Linked DNA regions of Homo sapiens. The protein of the gene in region 1 interacts with the protein of each later gene in a biochemical or structural test. Each region holds a gene or a part of one and is shown in the gene's direction. Other genes may lie near its edges. The genes, in order: COL18A1 and SPARC.

Region 1 (11,979 bases):
CTGGTTTCTTTCAAGGTTTTTATATTGATATTTCCATGTTGTTCATACATCACTTTCTTGACTTTCTCCACACCTTCCTGTAGTTCTTTGAGCATCTTTAAGACAGTCATTTTAAAGTCTTTGTCTAGTAGATCTGCCATCAGGTCTTTTGCAGAGACAGCTTCTGTTAATTTATTTTTCTCCTTTGAATGTGCTATATTTTCTTATTGCTTTGTGTGCCTTGTGATTTTGTGTTAAAAAGTGAACATTTGAACTCAGTAATGTGGCTCTTGAATTTTGCCCTTCACCAGCGTTCGCTTTTTTTTGTTACTTTTTAAAAAATGTTTTGTGTCTGTGCCAGAAATCTCCCTTAGGTGTGAACTTCAGGTCTTCTCAGGTCTTTTCTGAGCCTGTCCCTTTCCCTGGGTGTGTGCAGCCACTTTCTAATTTTCCTCTTACATGCTGCTGTTTTTCAATGTCCCGTTCTTTCATGTTTGGCTCCCAAAGGAGGAATAAGATAAAAATGAGGGAGAAAAAACAGTGCCAGCCCTCTAAATCCCCTTCAAGTCACTTCAGCTGGAAGGGGCAGCTTGCAACAACAGAGGGAGTGTAAAACAATGGCCCCACCTCCCTGTCTGCACATCTGTGATCCCAGGCAACCTGATCAGAGCACAGGTTCTCGATGTCTGCAGGACAGGGTCCTTTTTGCCGTCCTGTTTCCCACAAGCTGTGTGGCTGCTGCTCCAGGAACTCGTGCATGGCACCTGCTATGGGAATGGGGGTGGAGGATGGATGTGTGGCTGCTATTGTGCCAAGAGCTGGGGTTTAGCTAAATTAACCACCCGTTACCGTCCAAGCCTTCCTGTGGACATTGCAAGCTTTCAGTAGACTCCAGAGTTCCAAAAGAGTTCTAAGACAAATTCTGCCCATGCACTTGTTAATTAGTTGGGGAGATGGATTCCTGGCGCTTTCCATCTGCCATTTACCAGAGTACTCCAGAATCATTTTCAAACACGTTTCTTTCTGTCAAGAAATCAAGTCTTGGCCAGGCATGGTGGCTCACGTCTGTAATCCCAGCACTTTGGGATGCCGAGGCATGCGGATCGCCTGAGGTCGGGAGTTGGAGACCAGCCTGACCAACACGGAGAAACCCCATCTCTACTAACAATACAAAATTAGCTGGGTATGGTGGTGCATGCCTGTAATCCTAGCTACTCGGGATGCTGAGGCAGGAGAACTGCTTGAACCTGGGAGGTGGAGGTTGTGGTGAGCTGAGATTGCACCACTGTACTCCAGCCTGGGCAACAAGAGCGAAACTCCATCTAAAAAAAAAAAAGAAAAGGAAAGAAATCAAGTCTTGAGGCATCATCATTGTTATATCATGTGCAGGTGTCTAGCCTGGATGCCACCCAGCTATGCCAAATGCGGGGAGAAACTCCCTATGGGCACTGTGGCTGGGTCCAGAGCTCAGAGGCTGGAGCTTTGAGAACTGGGCTGGAGCCAAACCATGATGGAAGCCTCTAGCTCTCAGGAAGAGACACACATCTGCGGGGGCAGAGTGACCACATTTCCAGGTTGCCCAGCCCTCGGGAGTAGCACAGTGCCCAGGCACTGGGGCAGAGGTGGATCCCGTAGTCCCTCGGTGGGAGCTCCAAAGCCTCCCGTTTTCATCTCTTCCTCTTCCCAGGATGGGATTTTGGGGATGAGATCTTCCTGGTGGGCTGGAGTCTGTCCCAGAAGTCAACAGCCCAACCTGGGGCCAAAAAAGACCCTCTTAGATAAGGCAGGCCCTCGGCAAGACTCCAGCCACACATGAGAGGGTGGAACAGAGCTCCTGAGTCCCACTAACCACGGCCACCTGCAGTGGTCAGGTGGGGGCACCGTGTCCATCCCCCCATGGGTTTGTGCCAATTTGCATATAGGTATGTAGCTTCCTATTGGCGACTGTAAGAAATTGCCACAAATTCAGTGGCTTAAACCAACACAGCTGTCTTACCTTTCAGTTTTGGAGGTCAGAGTCTGAAACCAGTTCACTGGGCTGAAACCAAGGTGTTGTCAGGGCTGGGTCCCTCTGGGACTCTGGAGGAGAATCTGTTTTCTTGACTTTTCCAGCCTCTAGAGGCTGCCGCTTCCCTTCGCTCAAAGCCCCTTCTTCCCCCTTCAAAGCCAACGGTGTTGGACAAGTCCTCATGGTGCCATCTTTTGTCCTTCGATTTTAAGGCTTTGTGTGGTTAGAAGTGGATCATCTCCCATCTCCAGGTCCACAGCCTGAGTCCCAGCTGCAGCATCCCCTTGCCACGTAAAATTACGCTTGTGGGTTCCAGCTGTTGTGCCGTGGACATCCTTGGGGCCATGGCTCTGCCCACCACAGTTTGTCCATGTGCACGGCTGCACATGTGTACATATGCATGGGAGTCTTACTTTGCATTAATGGGATTGCCCTGTGTCTGAAAGTTCCTCTTTCCTTTATCCTGCATCTCAGGAGTCTCCATAACTCCAGGGAGATGCTCTGCTCTTCGTGTTGTTCTGGTCTTTTCCTCAGCCCTTCCTGACTGAAGCACTCGCAGGTATTTCTGCTTCTCTGTATAACAGATGACCCTGCAGACACCTGCTCAGCCCCGACTGGCGGGTTCATCGCACAGCCTCGCCTTTGTTTATCAGACACCAGCTGAGCCACCCCACCTGTGCCTGGCGTGGGTTTTGGGTCAGCGCTGACGGTGGAGAGATTGAATGTTGTAAACGTGTCCGAGTGTCAACAGGAAGTCTCCACCCGGGGACAGGGGCCCGTTTCTTAGGTTGTTTTTAGCCTTCCGTGGGGGCTCTGCAGCCTTGGGATTTGGTGGAGGTGTTTGTTCTGAGGCCGTTTTTCTTTGATGCCAAGATGTCCCCCCGGGCACTTCACTGCGTAAGTGCTATGGTGTGATGGAGTGATGATGGTGGCGCACTCTTCAAGCTCTGGATCAGGTTCCGGAAGCTCTGTGTGAGTCTTACTGAGGTGGTTATTTTCTCTTTTCCCTGGAAAGTGGGCTGAGAGCACTCCATGTGGGCACGAGCGGCCCTGGCTCTGCAGGACTGGAGGGGGCTGTGCTGGAGGGCGGGGGGCTGGCCAGGCAGCCTTGGATCTTGTCCTCAGGAGCCCTTCAAAGGGGCAGCAGAGACTCCAGGCCCTGTGCCCCGAGGAGTCAGGCTGGGCTGGTTCTGGGGAGTGTCTGGAGCACCTGATGCTGAGCACAGGCGGGCGTCCGTGGAGTGCACGTGTCTGAGGGTCTCTGAGGGGTTTGCCCTTTTCTTCGGAGCCACGGTGGCCGTGAGGGATGCAGGACATTGGGTGTGGCCCTCGAGGACTGGCCTGTCTGGAGCCCACTCCCCCGTGGGTGAACGCGGCTCTTGGTGGAGAGCCCAGTTTGGGGAGAAGGGACGGTCTTGTCCTGGGAGGTGTCAGACAAAGCCGAGCATGGGACTCACAGGAGACCCCCAGTCAGGCCGTGTCAGGGTGAGGCTGGGAGTGAGGGTCCTGGAAAGTCCGGCTTCTGGGAGAGGGCGCTTTGGCTCAGAGGCTGCCACTGCAGAAGGGATGGACGTCCCCGGTCCCCTAAGATAAGGGACCCAAGGGGAGGGGCGGGGACGTTCCACACTGGTGTGAGAACAGCGGAGAGTCCCAGCCAGAGGTACCCGCTGCTCTCCTGCGGGGAGGATGCTGGCTGCACTGTCTGTCCTGGGCATATTTAAAGGGGCCTCTGTTAACACACACAGGCCTCCAGAACCATCCACACTTCTGGCTGGCCTGATTCCTGAGGGGGAAATGGTCTTTAAAGAAGCAAGCACCTTGATCCAAAGGGAGGTGGTCCAGCAGGAGGGGCCGCCCCACCATACCCAGGAAGGTTGAGCTCTCGCACCCGGGAAGGCTGAGCTCTCGCACCCGGGAAGGCTGAGCTCTCGAAATGGGGTTCAGGCATTTGCTGTTTGATTCCAGGACATCTGAGACAGCTGGGCCTGTACCTCGGGGAGTGGAGGCTGCGCCATTCTCTGCCCATCCAGCATCTTAGGGCCGGGCATTTGGAAGCTGGCTTCTGAAGGGAGCCCCCAGGAGCTTCGTGGAGAGGAGACGGGACAGCTTTGGAAAGGGCGTTGCTGTCACTGGGGTCCCTGGGGCCGCCGGTGTAGCGTGCTGGTACCCTCCAGCCCAGGAAGGTGGCAGCTGCCGCATCTTGCTTTCCCAATGACGGAATGTTCTAGGAAGGGTGGTGGGAGGTTTCTCCAAGGTGAACGCGGGGGCAGCTGGGTGGCTGGCACGGCCTCTGGCCCCCAGGCCGAGTCCTGTTTCCTGATCTTATCACAGCCCCAGCTTGGACATGTGGGACCAGGCACTTCTTATGAGAAAAAGGATCATTGTAACAGCTGCCATCTGGATGGACGATCATTGTAACAGCTGCCATCTGGGTGGACGGCGGCCTCTGTCTGAGGGGGATGTGACCGCTGGCCCCCAGAGCCCAGGCTCAGCCCGTTGGGACCCCTCTGCCCCTGGCCCAGACTGTGGCTGCAAAGCCCGGGCTCTGCCTGGCACGGCAGGTGTGCTGGGAAGTCACTCTGAGCAGGGTCTGCCCTTGAGTGGGTGCTGCCCCCCTCCCGTGGGCAGGAAACGAGGTGTGAGAACTCTGGGCACCGGGGCTGCGTCCTGGCTTGGGCTCCCTGGGCGAGGGATGGACAGGGCTCCTTCTGACCCTGGGCTACTGAGTCGAAGTGAAGTCAAGCTCCGCCTGGGCAGGAATGAGTGGAGTGAGTCACCCGGCGCTGTGGGGCATTTGCACGGAGCAGCGGGGCTGGTGGGGAGACTGTGGCACGTTGGCAGGTACGTCAGGCATGCAGCCCCTCCAAGGGGTGATTGTGGCCCCGAGGGGAATCAGCATGGGGGGGATGGGGAGATACAGCTTGTCCTTGCCACATGAAGCACCTGGCCCAGCAGGTGAGCCGGTGACCGACAGCGCTGGGTGAAATCCCGCACCGTGTCCTCAGATGCCACGTGGAACCCCAGCTGAGGCAGCCACTCTGGGCGACGCCCCGTAGCCGAGGCTTCGAAGAACACTGGGGTGTGGGGTCAGCCTCCCTCCTTCCCTGTGGTGGAACTGTGGCTTCACAGTGGAGGCCAGGCTGGGGTGCCGGCCTGGGCTGCTCCAGCAGGGTCAGAGTGGGCGGGCAGGGCACAGGGCCGGGCGGGAAGGCTGCCAGCCCCAGCCCCTCACAGCTCCTTGCCCCAGCGGGGGTGCCGGCCAGTCCCTGGTCCCTTCTCCCCACTGGCTCTGCCCATCAATGCTCAAAGCATGGAAGGGGAAGCCTGTGGACACCATGTCTGCTGTGCCCATCCCTGCTCAAAGCATGGAAGGGGGCCTGTGGACACCATGTCCCGTGCAGACACCATGTCTCCTGCAGACACCATGTCCCCTGCACACAGGTTTCTGCATGGAGCCTGCCTGTCGTTTGGGAATGAGTGAACCAGGGTGGCCGTTGGGTGGCTGAGCCCAGGGGATCAGGGCAGGCTGCCAGGCACGTGGAGAGCCCTCCCAGACTCAGTTTCTCCTTTCTGCCCCTGCCTGGCTGCCTCTCCAGGCCGCGTCGGTGGCCCCTGGTTCCGTCCTGCACAGCCACCTCACCAGCTGTCTTTCTTTTTGCAGAGCGCATCAGCGAGGAGGTGGGGCTGCTGCAGCTCCTTGGGGACCCCCCGCCCCAGCAGGTCACCCAGACGGATGACCCCGACGTCGGGCTGGCCTACGTCTTTGGGCCAGATGCCAACAGTGGCCAAGTGGCCCGGTACCACTTCCCCAGCCTCTTCTTCCGTGACTTCTCACTGCTGTTCCACATCCGGCCAGCCACAGAGGGCCCAGGGGTGCTGTTCGCCATCACGGACTCGGCGCAGGCCATGGTCTTGCTGGGCGTGAAGCTCTCTGGGGTGCAGGACGGGCACCAGGACATCTCCCTGCTCTACACAGAACCAGGTGCAGGCCAGACCCACACAGCCGCCAGCTTCCGGCTCCCCGCCTTCGTCGGCCAGTGGACACACTTAGCCCTCAGTGTGGCAGGTGGCTTTGTGGCCCTCTACGTGGACTGTGAGGAGTTCCAGAGAATGCCGCTTGCTCGGTCCTCACGGGGCCTGGAGCTGGAGCCTGGCGCCGGGCTCTTCGTGGCTCAGGCGGGGGGAGCGGACCCTGACAAGTTCCAGGTAACCCCCACTGTGCCGTCGCTGGGGGACTGGAGCAGCTGGGATGGGGTGGGGTGGGGGTGGCCACTGGGACAGGGACGGAGCTGTGGCCGGAAGAGGAGAGCCCCCACCCCAGCTGTGGTCAGCCCGGGCCTCCAGCGCAGGCCTCCTGGGTTCTTGGCTGCTCAGCCCTGGCCTCCGGCGCAGGCCTCCCGGGTTCTTGGCCGGCCTGGCTGGGGTGGCATTCACTTTCTTGGCTCTCTGGCTCCTGCGCCCCCAGGAAGGGTAGCCCTGGGCTTCCATGGTTTCTCTGAGACCCCGAGGCCCAGCCCAGGAGGGCCCTCTTTGAACGACTTTGTAACTAGACATCCACCCCAGCCGTGACCCCGTGACCCAGAGACACCCCCAGGCCTGTGCCAAGCCCTGTGGTGAAGTGGGGCTCCCGGCCTCTGACCGGCCGGTCGGGTAAGTGGGGACCGAGTCCAGGCCCAGCCACACGCCTCGTGGCCCCATGCAGAATGAAAGCTGGGGTCCTTGTTGAAAACGATGAACGATCCAAAGCTGGCGGCAGCAGGGTGTTGATCCCAGCAGGGTTCTCCTGTGGTAGCTGCACACCCGCTGGGACCAGGGGCTCAGGGCGGCCCTGCAGGTCAGCACCTTTAACAAAGGGTGCAGCAACCCACGCCTGTGAGACTCCACTTTGGAGCACGTGGTGGGAGTCCCCCAGCGGTGAACGCACGTGGCCGCCTCCACCTGAGTCTCCGGGAAGTCCCTCCAGTGGGCCTTCATTTCTTGGGGTTGGGGGGGTGGACAGATCCCTAAACCCATGTGGGGTCTGTGTCCAAAGCCCCTGCATTTCTGGGAACCTTTGGCTGGGAACAGCCACGTGGGTGACCTCAGCTGGCACTGTCTCACAAGTCCCTGAATTCTAGCATTCAAGCTGGCCTGCAGCTGGACGCCCCTGCCCTGGCGGGCCGCAGGGGACAGAAGGTTAATTATTGCCCAGACAAGGGCTGTTTGTTTGAAGTTGTTCTAAGTCCTGGTGTCTGGGGGTTCTGAAAGCTGACTTTTCACCTTTGGCAGGAACTTTTAACCCTCAGAGCTCAGGAGCCGCTAGGACGTTGACACCAAACTGGGCCTCTTTGTTTTCCTCTTGATCACAAACATGATTACCGGGAAAGAAGTCAGAGTCACCCCCTCCAGTGAGAGGCAATTTGTTGTGTGAGTCCCCAGCCGTTTCTTGGTGGAATAAAGTGGCCCACAAGTGCCGTACATCTTTAACACTGTTAGGAAAAGCGGCTGAGTGCCGAGAGCTCGGTACGTGGGTGCACAGCTGTGCCCCGATGGTGCTAGGGAGAGCCGGGCCACCGCCCTGCGGTGAGGGCCTCCTCATCAGCGAAGTCCCGTGTGTAGGAAGAGGGGGTCTGGGTGTTTAATTTTGCATTTCTTGGACTGTGAAGATAGACTTTCATTTTGTCACTTGTTTATTGTCTGTTTGTATTTCTTCCTTTGTGACTGACCGGTTTATGTTCTTTGTGGTTTTCAATGGGCCCAACTCTCAGTGATTTATACAAACTCCTTATCTTTAAAAGAAACTTCTCTTTGGTTTTGCATGCTGCAGATTTTATTTCTACCATGTCATTTGCCTTTTTACCTTGTCTTTTTTTTTTTTTTTTTTTTTGACTATTGGGATTGGATGTGTGGTTTTTTTGTGGGTTTTTTTTTTGTTTTTTTTTTTTTAGATGGAATCTCGCTCTGTTGCTCAGGCTGGAGTGCAATGGGGTGATCTCGGCTCACTGCAACCTCTGCCTCCCAGGTTCATGCGATTCTTCTGCCTCAGCCTCCCAAGTAGCTGGGATTACAGGCACCTGCCACCATGCCTAGCTAATTTTTGTATTTTTAGTAGAGACGGGGTTTCACCATATTGGTCAGGCTGGTCTCGAACTCCCGACCTCAGGTGATCCACCCGCCTAAGCCTCTCAAAGTGCTGGGATTACAGGCGTGAGCCACTGCACCCAGCTGGGATTTGATGTGTTTATGTGGTTAAATCTGGCCTGGAGAAGACACCATGACTTACAACAGCCCAGTGAAACCTTGGAAGGTCAGAGAGCTGGAACAGGAGGGAGCTAGAGGGCCCTGGGTCTGGCCCTGGGCTGGGGCCCTGCTGGGCGTGGGTGGCGTGCAGCAGGCCGTGTGCTGCTGGGCGTGGGTGGCGCGCTACAGGCTTCGTGCTGCTGGGCCTGGGTGGCGTGCTACGGGCTTGTGCTGCTGGGTGTGGGTGGCGCGCTACGGGCCTTGTGCTGCTGGGCCTGGGTGGCGCGCTACGGGCCGTGTGCTGCTGGGCCTGGGTGGCGCACTACGGGCCTTGTGCTGCTGGGCGTGGGTGGCGTGCAGCAGGCCGTGTGCTGCTGGGCGTGGGTGGCGCGCTATGGGCCGTGTGCTGAGGGCTGTGTTGGTTGATCTCTGTGTCAGGTCCCTGCAGGCCTCAGGTGTCAGGAACTTTCTCTTTGGGTCTTAGATGAGATTCCAGCTGGGGAGAGGAGAAGCATGCTTGTGTGGTAGAAAAGAAGACAGACTTGTTCAGCACAAGATTTTCTCAGACTTCTGAATTGAGATACTTGGGAAAGAAACATTCAAGTTGTGTGACTCATAATTTTTGGCAGAAACAAGCACAGAGCTTTGGGAGCAGGGAGGAAACCGAGGCTTCCTCCTCCTCAGCCTCTCCACAAGACTGCATCGACCCTGGCGCTGCCACAGATGGTGCCTGGGACCCCCGGCCGCAGCTGGGTCCAACAGAGCCCTCCGGAGCATTGGTTGTGTTCCTCGTCCTAAGAGTCCTTGGGCGTTGTTGGTCTTTTCAGGTTCACTTTCTTGAGTCAGGTTTGTCAGTGGTCGTCTCCCGGGAAATCATGCACCCCTCCCAGCTGCTGCCGTTGCCTTGAACGTCATTTCCAGCTGTGTCCTGATTTCCAGCTGTGTCCTGATTTCCAGCTGTGTCCTGATTTCCAGGGCGCTGAGGCTGCAGCGTGTCGGGAAGCATTTTACATGCTCTTCCCTCACAGAATTCCTGTGAGCTCTGTTTCAGGTGTCTCCGGATTTCATAACTTTCAGTCCGAAGTCCCTTAAATATTTACAATGGGCCTGTGGCTTTTGCACTAGCGCCTCCTGCCCCACCCCCGGAGCCAGCGGCCACCACGGGCTCAGAGCTTCTCTGCCCTCTGTAGTCGCCCCCCACCCAGGCACCCTGTAGCCCCGTGCAGGAGGCGTCGGCCCCTCGGGGGCACTCTCAGGAGAGCGCTGTGGCCACCTGTGGGGGGGTCAGGGCCTCACGGGCCTCTCTGGACAGTGCATGTCTGTGTGGGGATCGGGTGTCAGGAATGCCCAGTCCCTCCCCGACACCAAGACCACCCAAGATGCACCCCCCGCCCGGGCTGCCCCAGTGGAGAAGCGCAGTTTTTTTTTTTTGTTTTTTTTTTGAGACGGAGTCTCGCTCTGTCGCCCAGGCTGGAGTGCAGTGGCACGATTGCGGCTCACTGCAAGCTCTGCCTCCCGGGTTCACGCCATTCTCCTGCCTCAGCCTCCCAAGTAGCTGGGACTACAGGCGCCCGCCACCAGGCCAGGCTGATTTTTTGTATTATTAGTAGAGACGGGGTTTCCCCATGGTCTCAATCTCCTGACCTTGTGATCCACCCGCCTCGGCCTTCCAAAGTGCTGGGATTACAGGCGTGAGCCACTGCGCCCGGCCGAAGCGCAGTTTTCTAGAATTCAACCCCAGCTCCTCCCTGGGCCTGACCTGGGGGCTCCTGAATGTGAAGGCTCAGCTGCTGGGCTGCTGCCCCACCCCCACGCAGTAGGTCCTGGTGGACAGTGGACCCTGGACCCCACGGTGCTGCCCCTGGCCGACCTGGGGGCACTGTAGGCAACGCCCTCCCCCGCAGTGTGACGCTGAGAGCCGCTGGTGCGCTCTGTGAGGCTGAGAACCGCTGGTGCGTTTTGTGGGAAACCTGTGGGAAACCCAGGGGGCCCACAGGGTCCACACCCCCCCACGCATGAGCTCACACGCGTGCATACGTGATCTCATGTTTGCACACATGTGTCCATGCAGATGCATGCTCTCACGCACATGTGCCCACACACTCAGCACTCACACCCCGTCCTGCAGGCTCAGCCCCACTCCTGAGCCACCTGCCTGGGCTTTGGGGGCCCAGCCGGCATGGGGAGCCCCAGGCTCCAGCTGGCCTCGCTTGGCTCTGAAATCTAGGCCAGGATGCAGAACCCGCAGTGCGGCCAGTGGAGCCCCTGGTACTGTGCGCAGCCCCCACCTGGCAGCCCCTTTTCCTGTCAAAGCCCCTCCCAGCGTCCTCTCCCCACCAGGCAAGCTACCCGCTTGAGGCTTAGGACGTTGCGCCCTCCTGTGTCCTTGCCCAGCATCCCCGGCCTGCATCTCACCAGGCACCGCCGGCCGCGCCAGGGCCCGAGAGGGCAGGGTCAGGCACCCTGGCACTCAGCCCAGGACTGAAGATGCCAGAGGGAGCGGTGGGTAGGTGGGTGAGTGAGTGAGATTGGGTCCGGACGGAATGGGCGCAGAGATCCAGGAAACTCCCCTACATCTGCGGCGTTTCTGTCCTTGGCTTCTGGGTTTTGTTTTTGATGAAAAGGTGAAGTTCAAAGAAAGCAAAGCCATGGTGCCACCTCGGTTGGTCCGAGTCGGGAGATGAGGCCGCCTGGTGCTTGCGTAAAGCTCCCGGGACTTGGGGTTGGGGGACTTGACCTGCAGCCCCTCGAATCTGCCCGCCCTCCCAGGCCTTGGATCGAGCCACACCTGCTGTGGTTCTAAACCCGTAGCCCTCAGGTGGCCCATCAGCTGCCTCAGATGAGCCAAGTCTGAGGGAGCAGCCTCCGCCCAGCCGGGTGCTTTCCACATGAAAGCGCCCAGGACGCCCCTGGGTCTCACCACTTCTTCCTACCATGAGGCATACCGCACCCCCAGGGAGGCTGCCCGAGACCCCTTCCCTCTCCGAGACTCTCCTGCCCTTTGTGGGCCCCCCGAAATCTGGAGCTCAAGCAGCACCGGGGTTGCCACTGCCACCTCAGGACCGCTGGTGACCCCTTTCTCTGTCTGCATTTAGGGGGTGATCGCTGAGCTGAAGGTGCGCAGGGACCCCCAGGTGAGCCCCATGCACTGCCTGGACGAGGAAGGCGATGACTCAGATGGGGTGAGTGACATCTGGGGCACGGGTGGGGTCTCCCCTCAATCCCTGGCACGCGGAGTTCAGGGCCAAGGTCTATGACAGGAAAAGTCCCAAAATATACCACTTGGGGCACTGGGAAGCTGCGATACCATTTCTGTGCTCTCCTGTAGCACCTCAGAGCCCTTCCTTGCCCTGAACTTTCCCATAAAAACAAATACAAAGCATGATATAAACACCAGAAACCACCCTCCATGGCAGCTGGTGAGACAGAGGATGTGAGGCAGCTCAGCAAAGTGTGTGTGTGTGTCTGTGTCTGTGTGGTGTGTCTCTGTGTCTTGTGTGGTGTGTCTCTGTGGTGTGTCTGTCTTGTGTGTTGTGTGTGGATGTGTGTGTGTCTGTGTGGTGTGTCTGTCTTGTGTGTTGTGTGTGTTGTATGTGTGTCTCTGGTGTGTCTGTCTTGTGTGTCGTGTGTGTCTGTGGTGTGTCTCTGTGTGTAGTGTGTCTCTGTGTGTGGTGTGTCTCTGTGTGTGTGGTGTGTCTCTGTGGTGTGTCTGTCTTGTGTGTTGTGTCTGCATGTCTGCATGGTGCGTGTGTCTCTGTGTCTGTGTCTGTGTG
Region 2 (11,979 bases), on another chromosome or scaffold:
TTTCTTCCAAAACTTTTAAGGTGTATTCCAAGATTTTGCGTTCTGTTCTTAACAGTCTCTCTGCATTTCTCCCCCACTCCCACTTGTCTGAGCGTAATTCCTATTAGGCTCACCCCAACTCCATGAGTGAGAACGCTTGCCTATTTGGAGAGGGCCTGAATTGTTGCATGACTTTGGACAAGTGCTTCCTCCCTCTCAACCTCAGATTCCCCATTAGGACAGTGGGACTAAGAACCCTTCCATGCCTGTCTGCCTACTTCCCAGCATTGTCAGAAGGCTCTAGGAGACAGTGTTATGTGACAGTGCTTTAGAAACTATGAAGCAGCACTATAAGACTTAGAGTTATTTTTCTCTTCTGGCTGCAACAGCAGGGATGGGGGTGGCAGGGAGGGTGAGTGTGCAGCTGGAAAAGGAATTCAGGAAGATGAGGAGGCAGGACAGACAGAAGAGCCGCCCAGCGAAACCTTCCCCTGGTCACAGAGGGGAGCGCGGTTACTCTGCTCATATGAAGGACGCAGACTCAGGGAAATGTCTGTCTTCCTGTCTTTCTAATCTGAAGCTTACTACATTTCCAGTCCTAGCTGGGCTATTTCTTCAATAACATGACTTCCCTGTCATTATAGCTCAGACAGGGTAACTTTTTGTTTTGTTTTGTTTTAGCTGCTATTTCACTTTGATCCTTCAACCTCAAACTATCTCAGACAAGTCCTTCCTTGATGTTTTCTTTTCTGTTCCATTTGTCCCAAGCCACATGCAGGAGTTATTTATCTTGCGTCTTCCAAAAGGGGAAGCAAGAAGGGAGATTTTTCCACTTAAGCCTGGGGAACAAGTGAACAACTGTGTGAGGGGAGGAACATTCCACAAGCTGCCTCAAAAGGGAAGACTAGACTCCTCTGGAAGTTGGGGTTATTGTGAAGCAATACCAAACCCCCAGGTCCTTTACATTTCTGTTAGTTTTACTTCATTCACTCTGTGCAATAGGGGGTGAGGTTTTGTGTCTCTTTAAGCCCAAGAAAGGACCATTATGAAGTGGGCTCTTCCTCTGCCTGTTTCTGCTTCCCAAATGCTATAGTACAAGTGAAGACATATGATCCCAGAGGAGACCATATGTGTCAAGACCAGAATGTGCTTGGGGTGTCTTAAGAGCATTTTAAGGACCGAGGCTGCCACTTCAAAGTTCACCTAGTCTACCCATTTCAATTGATAGATGGGGGAACCAAGGTCTAGAGAGACCAAAAGACTTGATACTACTGTGGTAGAACAAGACCCCCTGGCATTTAATTTCAAGCTGAGTATTTTTCTCCATGATGCCGGGTTACCTCCCACCACCATTTGGTCAGTTGAGAAGTCTTGGAAGAAATAAGGGATGATGAGCCTGACAGGGAGGTTTTGGGAGAAGAAAGAGGGAAGACATGGCCACTGTTGCTCCTGATGGAAGGTTATTTGTGGGTAGAGAGAGCAGGTTTGTTCTTTGTGGCTGCAGGGGAGATGGGGTAGACAGATCAGAAAGTTTGAGGGAGGCACATTTAGATCAGTAAAAGAAAGAACTTTCTAAAGTCACTTGAGAATGAAAAGCCATTTAGTTAGTGCAAGAAATGAAATGTCTCCACCACAGAGCCTCTGTTAGGAATAGCATTTTAGTTTTGAATCCTCAGAGGAGATACTGCTCCAAAATCCCTTATAGTCATGAGAGTATTAGAGTCTAGAGCTTGGCATTTAGAGAATGAGGCCTTAACAGTTACCAGAACAGAGGTATTTTCTAGATCTCAGCTAACATCCCCTCTGCAACACATGGAAGCATCTGGATGGTTTCCGTACAGGACCTAAAGAAGTGCTGTCTCTTCTGGGTAGAATGGAGAAAAATGTGGCCACCCTCAAGTTTCCATGGGTTACATTCCAAGACTATTGTTCTTTGTTTTAGAATGTGGATCTCATTGTCCCAAACTGGCAAGAAGTTCCTGCCTATTAACTTCTCCCATTGCAGAGGGAGTAGGAAGGAGGGGGAGGAGGCGACAGAGGAGGAAGAGGAGAGATTGGGTTTAGGGAAAAAAATAATTTTAGAATATCAGGGATTGAAGGGACCTTGAAGATGATCTGGTTTGGCATTGCCCAAACTTAACTAGTTAGCCCATCACCTTAGTTGAATCACTTTGCAAAAACTTTAATAAATGTATTACAAAAGCAGATTTTATATCACTACCATAAATGGAAAAAACTCTGTGTACCTTTGTCATAAATAGAAGGAAACTGTAAAAACAAACACATAAAAAAAACAAAACAACTTGATTCAGTTCCAGCTGGATATAACTTCCTGTGGAAGCTCTGAGCTGGAGGCTTATTCTCTTTTTGTTAAAAAAGGAGATAGATGAGTATAAAGGAGGTGTTTAAGACATCTTGGCACCAAACTGAGACTTTCTTCTCATATAAGCAGAATTGAAAGAATATTAAATGGAACCAACCTCCTCATGTTTTTCACTATCATTTAACTTGTACCATCTAACATTATCTTGCACATATCAGGAATTCAGAAGGAAATCTCCATAAGGAAGTCTCACCCTCACTGAACTCTCAATCTCTCCTCCCCATAGGGTTCCCAGCACCATGAGGGCCTGGATCTTCTTTCTCCTTTGCCTGGCCGGGAGGGCCTTGGCAGCCCCTGTAAGTACCTAAATATCATGTCTTCTTGTTTTCATTCCTACCGCTAGCACCAGGGGTTCTGAGCCTGCCAGCCCTGGATGCTGAAAGGGAACAGGGACTTCCCCATTTCAAGTTAGTGGTCTTTTTTTTTTCTTAAGTTAGGAAGCTCGGGATAAAAACTGGGATGAGGACCATTGGGTGGAGGTATCAGAGAAGAGAGAGTTCCATGTAATGTTAGATAAACTTCTTAGTAGTCAGAGCCTCCCAGCAATGAACTAGGATTGCTTTAGAAGGAAATGACCTCTTTGTCATATGAGGAATTCAAGCAGGCAGGAGACAGGATGTGGGGGATTTCTGGTAGGGGTGGTATTAGAAGAGATTCAAGCTATAGAGAGAGGAATGTGTTGGCTTCTGAAACAGTGAGGGTTGTTTGGTTGTAAGCAACAGTTCAATCTGACTAAATTGGGGAAGGAGGGGAAGATACAGAGGTAGATTATAATATTAAAGGCCTTGGGGAGGACTGGAAAAGGGCAGCTCTAGGCTTTGGGAGTTAAGAACTAATGGACAGTCTCTGAGATATTGCTGTCTGAATGAATCAACTCCAGCAATTTTCACATCTTGAGAGAATGTGCCAAGAAGGTTTTTATAAATTCAAAAAATGAGAGCCAATCTGGCTGAGCTTGGGTCCTGAGCCAGCTTCTTGGCCAGGTGAGAGTGGGGCCCCTTGATTGACAGACAGTTCCTCGAAGCATTGCATGCAGGGACAGGAGTAGTTATCCACAGCTCATCTGGAAGCCTTCACAAGGAGAGGAGGAAGAAACAGGGCAGGCAAAAAGTGCAATTTCTTTCAACCTGTGATCCCCTCATCCTCTGTTTACTAAGAAGTGGGAGTGATGGCAGACCCTGGCAATCTTGATCAGGCTGGTAGATGGAGGCAAAAGTTTCTCAAAGTTGGCATTAAGTTTTGAAGCAGCTCCAGCCAGCTAAGGGCCTCAAAGTTGTGTGTTTTCTTGCTTCCTCCTACTCCAAGTTGAAATGGCAAGAAAAATTGCCTAATAATACTACTAATAATATCACACTGTGAGGAAGATGATGACATCTGTTAAAATTCACAGTGTCATCCCCTCTGGATGTCAATTTTCCTATCTGTAAAGTGAAAGAATTGGTCTGGATCAGTGATTTTCAGACTTTATAAGAATTCAAAGCAGCAGAAATACTTTTCCAAGCTAAATCTTAGGTAGACACCTAGGATATAAAATATATAAAATGGGAGCTGCTTGAGTGTTCCACGGTGCTCACATGACTGGCTTCTTCTTTGTTCTGTCCCTCACCATGGCAGTCCATGAGGCACAACTTTGGGGATCTCCAGTAAGCTGCTCTCCAAGCTCCCCTAGCCTGTATCCGAGGCCACAGGCACTTTGGAGGTGAAGCTGGCCTTATTCCTGACCCCTCTGAACGCTACTTTCTCTTTCCAACAGCAGCAAGAAGCCCTGCCTGATGAGACAGAGGTGGTGGAAGAAACTGTGGCAGAGGTGACTGAGGTATGTGGGCAGTGACCGCAGCCCCTTAGCCCCTCTCTACCTGTATCTGTGCCCTGAGAAATTAGGGCGGATGCTGTGGGTCTCAATGCTAGAGTGGGGCATTCGTCTCCCTGTACACACATAGCATAGATGCAAACCCTGAGTATATCCCACATCCTGACACACTCCTGAATGCTTCCCAAACCTTCAACGGAACCCTACGTTTGGGGACCAGGACCTTAAAATTTTTGTTTTTTAAGCTATGCAACAGTTGTTCTTCCATGATTACCCACAGTTTTTGCAAACGTAAAACAGAGGAGGCCGGGTGCGGTGGCTCATGCCTGTAATCCCTGTAATCCTTTGGGAGGCCGAGGCAGGCAATTCACGAGGTCAGGAGTTCAAGACCAGTGTGGCCAACATGGTGAAACCCTGTCTCTACTAAAAATACAAAAAATTAGCTGGGCGTGGTGGCGGGTGCCTGTAATCCCAGCTACTCGGGAGGCTGAGGTAGGAGAATCGCTTGAACCCGGGAGGTGGAGGTTGCAGTTAGCCAAGATCTCGCCACTGTACTCTACCCTGGGCGACAGCATGAGACTCCATCTCAAAAACAAACAAACAAACAAGCACACACACACACACACACACACACACACACACACACACACAGAGGAAAGGGGAGATGCTTGGGTGTGGCTGGCAGGGGTGGAGGCTTGACACCCTCTTGTGAACATAGATCTCAGTCAATTTAGAAAGTTTACTTTGCCAAGGTTAAGAATGTGCCTGTGACACAGCCTCAGGAAGTTCTGAGACATGTGTCCAAGGTGGTCGGGAGTACAGTTTGCTTTCATACATTTTAGGGAGACACGAGACTTCAATCAACATGTCTAAATTGTGCATTGGTTGAGTTCGCTAAGGCAAGACAACTTGAGAAGTGAGGGCTTCCAGGTTAGAAGTAGATAAGAGACAAATGGTTGCATTCCTTTGAGTCCTTGATCAGCCTTCCCCTGAATACACAATTTAATCTGGCTCAGTGAATCTGCATTTTTACATAAACAATAGGGGAGAGGAAGCAATCAGATAAGCGTTTGTCTCAGGTGAGCCTCAGAGGGATGACTGCATAGAATAGGAGGCAGGTTTGTCCTATGCAGTTCTCAGCTTGACTTTTCCCCTTAGCTTAGTGATTTTGGGGTCCAAGGTATATTTTCCTTTCACACTCTCTTTCCCTAACACCCCTGGTGACCTCTAAGGCAGCTCAACAGAATCCCAGGCATACTGCAAAACACAGCAGGCCTATAGATTAAATCTGGATTCCCAACCCTGCGTTTGTGCTTTCTGTGACCTGGAACCCTTCAGCTACCCTTATGGGTCTGGGATGGGAGTGGGGCCATTTCACCCATTCTTCTCCCTCAATTCCAGGTATCTGTGGGAGCTAATCCTGTCCAGGTGGAAGTAGGAGAATTTGATGATGGTGCAGAGGAAACCGAAGAGGAGGTGGTGGCGGAAAGTATGTCCCTTCCCTGTAACTTGGCACATCCAAGCTGCCCTTGGCTGCCTGGGCCTGGGGCACGAGGACAGCCTACATGAGGCTCCTTCCAGCAGAAATGCAGGGTGGGGTCCTCAGTGGGCTATGAAGGAAACACGGCTTTGACTTAACAAGTGGGAAACTGTGGCACTCAGTCCCCTGGGATCTGGGCAAGATCGGTTTCCAGGCCATCCATGTGTGTGGTAGGAAGGAGAGTTCTCCAGCTGGAAATGGGCTTCTCCCCTCATAGCTCTTTGCCCTGAGTCCAAAGCTGAGTTTCCCAGTCCCACGGAGGTCGCTGATCACATCTGGTCACCGAAATCTCCCATTGCTTCTGTATCAGCCCGTGCCCCACAGAGAAGTAGAACTGAGAGAAGAGATCAGGAACTTGCACACTCATAAGCTCATTCTATTTCACACAGTCCAAGGAAACGAGGTCCTGAGGAAATGCAACCTGACATAATCCGTACCATGCTATCCATGCGTTAGTGCCCTGGGAGAGAAATGACCTAGGGGCTCTGGCTCCAGCCCTAGGTGCAAAGCATTTGTACTCAAGGGGTTAAGAGCAAGGACTTTGGAAGCGGTCCAACCAAGCTTTGAACCTAGGCTTCTCCACGCCAGCTTGCTTAGCATCTCGGAGCCTCAGTTTCTCATCTCTCATATGGGGCTGATGAAGATGGCAGACCCTTGTCCCAGGGCTGCCGGGAAGTTTTCAGACAAGCTGAGTAGGCATCCGCTAAAGGATTATTAAAACACCCAAAATAAAGCATTGCGAGGAAAAGGCCACATTAAGCTCTCATCCTGAGGGGATAGCTAATGGTATTTGATCTAGCTGGGCACAGGGTTTCTGTTGAACAGAGGGACATCTACTGAGTCATGTTCCTTCCCGCCTCCACGCCCACCTCATCCGGTGTTTACCAGGCTCTATTGTCCAGCATGGACTTTGAGGCTCTTCTCCCTTTTCCTTTACTGCCACTTAAGTCTGTTTTGTTGGGCCTCAGCTCCCTGGCTCAGTGTCAACAGCTGACTTTCTAAGCCATTCTAGAAAGCTTATTCTGGAATCCAGAAATGCCCCACTGTGATTGTTCAATGGAGACCCAGGAACACAATGGTTGCTTCAATCTTCAGGAAAGCCATATGGTATCTAGTGTTTCTGGGTCCCAGACTGAGCCTCCAGCCCCCCAGAAGTGCCTGACCTCTATCTCAAGCTAAACCTCTAATCCCCAGGCTGAACCAGCTGCTGCCCTAAATGTTGACTGTGAGGCTCAGTGCAAGAGCAGGCAGGACTCAGGGCTGTCCAAAGCCCAGAGTGGGGGCCACAGTCAAGGACTGTCAGCCCTGAGATCTGTCCAGGTAGGATGGGGGTGGATGTGCTAGTCCAGGTGATGCTAACTCCCTTGTCTTTCTGCCCTACAGATCCCTGCCAGAACCACCACTGCAAACACGGCAAGGTGTGCGAGCTGGATGAGAACAACACCCCCATGTGCGTGTGCCAGGACCCCACCAGCTGCCCAGCCCCCATTGGCGAGTTTGAGAAGGTGAGGGCTGAGAGACAGGGGCAGGGGGAAGGGATTGGGCACTTCGGAATACAGGATGTCTGCTCAGGAAACTGTTGGCTTGGTGGTTCTATGGGGCAGTGCCAGTCTCAGAAGTCCCCTTGCTAGACCTAGTCCCAGCAGGAAAGAGGGGATGAGTCAGAGTGCTCTGCCTGGCACTGGATCTTTTCAGCAACCAGCAAGACTTTAAACAGCACCATCAGGTTCCAAGCCCTGTGCCAGACTCTTAGAGCTAAGAGTATAACAGCATCAGCAAAGAATCAGGTCCAAAAATACGGGTTCTGGGGCCAAACTGAAGGTTGACTTCAAACCTCATCTCCATCACTTATTAGGTGTGAGATTTAAGCTAAGTTGCCGAACCTTTTCAGGTCTCAGTTTTCTCACATCCAAAGAGAGGATAAAAATAGTCCTTAACTCATAGATCTGTTGTGGAGATGTGTCAGAAATGTTTGGTACATAACAAGTATCCAATAAATGCTACTTAATTTTAAATTATCTCTCAAATATGTCCCTTCTCTCCAATAGGATCCATCCATCCGTCCAAGTAAATATTTTTTGAGTGCCTGCTCCTGCCTACCATCATGCTAGTGGCAGTCTAGCTCATGGCAGCAAATCTAGGGCCAGCACTATTCCTACAGCCTCCCATCTGGCTTCTCCATCTTCAGTTTCTCCAGAGACTACATAGCCTCTGGGCTCCACATTTTAATATCATTGTTAACATTTTCCTCCTCCTCACCCCTCCCCACTCCCAGTGCCCAGTCACCAGTGCCCATCAGTTCTCCCTCTGCAGTGACATATAAGCTATACTAAATAAGTACGGACAGGATGTTCAACACAGGCTCCCCTCCTCCTAACACAGCTACTTACGGCCACTGCATGTCCAGCCCTCAACATCTCTGCTTGGCCACCCCTATGTTCAGAGATCGACTAGGACTCCATTGGCTCAGCATACAGTTGTACTCACACCTAAGGTTTAGTACAGCGACATATTCAGGATATACAGCTGGATCGTAAGGGAAAAAGACACTAGCAGAGTCTGGAGGAATCTGGGTGGAGACTGACTGACTCCCAAGAGGGGTCATCAGAGTGCATTCTTACCCCAGCTACAAAGAGGCAGCCACATGTGAGTGATGTTTCTTTCCAGGGAAGTTCATTAGAGACTCAGCACCCAAAGTTTTAATTGGAGGCTGGTCACATAGGTACCCTTTGCCTAGCATGCACCAGAATTTCACACTTCCAGAAGGAAAGCAGATGTTCAGCATAAACCAGATTGTTTGTACAAACAGTCCAGGCATAGCGAGCCACTCTTATCAGTTAGGGAAAGATTTACAACAGTGCAGAGAACTGTTTCCCAGCTAAGTTCCCAGACACCAGCCACAGGCTGACCTTACAAGCAGGCCTTTTCTAAGGATAACAATTCCAGGCCTGCTATGTTAACTCTTCTTTGAACACTCTTGTTTCTCTCCCATTCCTGTCTTTAACTTTCTCTTCAAATATCTTCCAGGATTTTTTTCCCTATATCTCAGAACTGACTCAGTCATGCCTCTGCTCAGAGACCATCGATGGCTCTCAGCCTGGGCTGAGCATTGACCTGGGAACCCAAAAAGTGGATTTGTGGCCCAGCCCTATCACTAACTCACTATATGACCTCAGGCTAATGACATTCCTTGCTTAACCCTCAGTGTCCCCATCTCTGAAATGGACAAGGATATTGGTATCAGCGAAGGGCTTTGGGAATGAAGGAGGGGGTACTCTGTGCTTTGCCAACAGGTGTGCAGCAATGACAACAAGACCTTCGACTCTTCCTGCCACTTCTTTGCCACAAAGTGCACCCTGGAGGGCACCAAGAAGGGCCACAAGCTCCACCTGGACTACATCGGGCCTTGCAAATGTGAGTGTCCTTGGGCCCTTCCAGACTCCTGTCTTGGGGAGAGAGCTCTGAGCTGGCACTGATGCTGTCTCTGCCACCCCCATGCTGGGTGATCTTGGGCAAATCTCTCTCCCTTTCTGAGTCTCGGCATCCCCATTTATAAAATGAGGTAATTGTCTATGAGTTGGCTCCTCTCAACTCTGAGTTCAGGGCACTTTCTGGGGAAGGACTGAGCGATTATGGAAGGTCAACATCAGGGAAGATTTCTGGAGTCTCTCACTAGCATCTGAGACAACTGCATTTCATTTCTCTAATGAGGAAGAATTTCTTCTCTCAGGCTAAGTTGAATCTTTCTTGCTTCAACACTGTAAAGCAAAAATGATGTTTGACCTGGGCCTACAAAATATTTTGAAAATATCTGATTTTGAATGCTTTAAAATAAGGGCATGCCTGTCGGTTTGCTTTGGGCCCTGTTACTTGGTACTGTCATATCTTCACCCTTTTACTCCATTACATTCCTATCTGCCCTCCGAAGAGAGAGGATAAGCACCCTCTTCTGGAAACCTGGGAGTCAGTTGTCTGGGGAGGGATGCCAGGGTGTGGTCTGATCTTTGGTTAGTGACCCCAGCTGCAAACTCAGTGGGGCCAAGTGCCTTGTTCAGTATCCTCCCTATCATGGGAGACCCCCAAGACCACACCTGCTCCCCCTCCAAGGCAACATCCACACTGTGGGTCTTGTGTATTCTGGCACCCGATGGCAATGAGGAGAGCCACTCACCTACCTCAGGTGTACAGGGTGCAGAAAAGTATGTAGGGGGTGGGAAACAAAGTTCTCCTCGTGGGACCCCAGGTATGAAATTGAGAAGGTACAGAGTAGAAAAGGAGGGTTGGGGGAAGAAGCATGGGTAGGAAGTCCCTGGGCAGCAAGACTAGAGAGCCTGTCTTAAGGAGTCTTTATGAAGTGGCTTTGCTTTCCCTGAGGCATGTTGCCCACTCACTTCAACTCCTAAGGTTTTTATCACCAGATATTCTCTCCCAGACCCCAGCTGATGATGAAGGTAGCCTCACAGAGGGGACTTTCCCTGGTTCAATGATGAGGGAAGAACAGACCCCTAAGCCCCCAGGTGACCACACTGCCCTGGATGCTGGATGAGGCTCTGACATTGTGGCCTTGAGCAAGTCCCTTCTCTCCATGCTGACCTCTAATAAGTCCAGTACAAAGTGTGAACCTGGGTCAGGCGCGGTGGCTCACGCCTGTAATCCCAGCACTTTGGGAGGCCGAGTAGGGAGGATCACTTGAGCTCAGGAGTTCGAGACCAGTCTGGGCAACGTGGCAAAACCTTGTCTCTGGAAAATATACAAAAATTAGCTGGGTATGGTGGCATGTGCCTGTAGTCCCAGCTACTCAGGAGGCTGAGGAGGGAGGATTGGTTGAGTCCAGGAGGCTGAGGCTGCAGTGAGCCGTGATTGTGCCACTGCACTCCAGCCTGGGCAACAGAGTGAGACCCTGTCTAAAAAAAAAAAAAAGAAGAAAAAAAGAAAAAAGAAAAGAAAAGGAAAAGAAAAGTGTGGACTTGGATGAAATCTTCAGGTCCAACATTTGGGATTCTAAGTTCCAAAGACCAGGTTGGAATCATTTCTAAGAAGGTTCTGGTGGTTACACATTCCTGAGTCCTCTACTCCCCACTCCCTGCCAAGCTGGGCCTGTGGATAGATGTGATCCCTCAGCCTCCCAGCTTCAAACACCTGCCAGTGGTTGACGTGAACAACATGGGCTCAGTCTCAGCTAGGATCACACCCAAAGCCCAGCACCCAGTAAGGTGCAGGAGCCATCCATTTCCCTGAGCAGAGCAGATTAGGCTGAGGAAAGCAGCAGCCATGCCTTTGCACAATGCATTTCTAGGGCATTCTTCCCACACATAATCTCCTCTGCTCATTGTCCTGTGAAGAAACTGTGGCCTGGAGAGGTTGAGCCACTGTGCCAAGGCCACCAATGCAGGTGGTATGTGGGTGGGTGGGGGCCTGGGGTGGGGAGCACGGCCCAGGCAGGGTCTGTGCTGACCGCCCTTGTGTTTGGAACCTAGACATCCCCCCTTGCCTGGACTCTGAGCTGACCGAATTCCCCCTGCGCATGCGGGACTGGCTCAAGAACGTCCTGGTCACCCTGTATGAGAGGGATGAGGACAACAACCTTCTGACTGAGAAGCAGAAGCTGCGGGTAAGTGGTCTCTCTGGCCTTGCTGGCCCCGTGCTGGTGAAGATCCAGTCCCATTCCTAGAACTGGGCCCCCAGCTGCAGGGCGGCATCCTGCTCCGGAGCGTGCATTTACCCCTGAGCACCAGGACACGTACTTCTCTTCCTGCCTTTGGAGGCTGTGGTGCACATTAACATCTTAGAGGCTCTGAGAAGTCCTGCAGCAGAGACCTGCTCCCTTTGCTTAACCTAACGTTAAACAAAAGAGACACAAACAGCCCTATTCCTTTTTCCTTTGGAGTCTGTGGATCTTAAGCTTTAATGAGCATATTAACTACCCCAAGAAGCTGATAAAATGCAGATTCCTTGGCCCCATCTCAGGCCACTGAAACAGTGTCTCTAGAAAGCAAGGCCCAGGAAGCTGCATTCTAAATACTCCCCAGGTGATTTATGTTTATTTTATTTTTTTGAGGCAAAGTCTCACTCTGTTGCCAGGCTGGAGTGCAGTGGTGCGATCTCGGTTCACTGCAACCTCCACCTCCTGGGTTCAAGTGATTCCCCTGCCTCAGCCTCCTGAGTAGCTGGGACTGCAGGCATGCTACCACACCTGGCTAATTTTTGTATTTTTAGTAGAGATGGAGTTTCACTGTGTTGGCCAGGCTGGTCTCAAAACTCCTGGCC

The links.
Region 2: the proteins of COL18A1 (region 1) and SPARC form a complex in vitro, tested with the Homo sapiens proteins (one study listed by BioGRID).

What each region holds. Positions count from the first base shown.
Region 1 is NC_000021.9:45,462,594-45,474,572, forward strand, and holds part of COL18A1 (collagen alpha-1(XVIII) chain isoform 4 preproprotein), read left to right. Parts: intron 1-5,648; coding exon 5,649-6,193; intron 6,194-11,301; coding exon 11,302-11,388; intron 11,389-11,979. UniProt on the Homo sapiens protein: Probably plays a major role in determining the retinal structure as well as in the closure of the neural tube.
Region 2 is NC_000005.10:151,666,811-151,678,789, reverse strand, and holds part of SPARC (SPARC isoform 1 precursor), read left to right. Parts: intron 1-1,742; exon of another isoform or gene 1,743-1,845; intron 1,846-2,588; 5' UTR 2,589-2,601; coding exon 2,602-2,658; intron 2,659-4,115; coding exon 4,116-4,178; intron 4,179-5,573; coding exon 5,574-5,661; intron 5,662-7,095; coding exon 7,096-7,217; intron 7,218-9,005; coding exon 9,006-9,126; intron 9,127-11,189; coding exon 11,190-11,323; intron 11,324-11,979.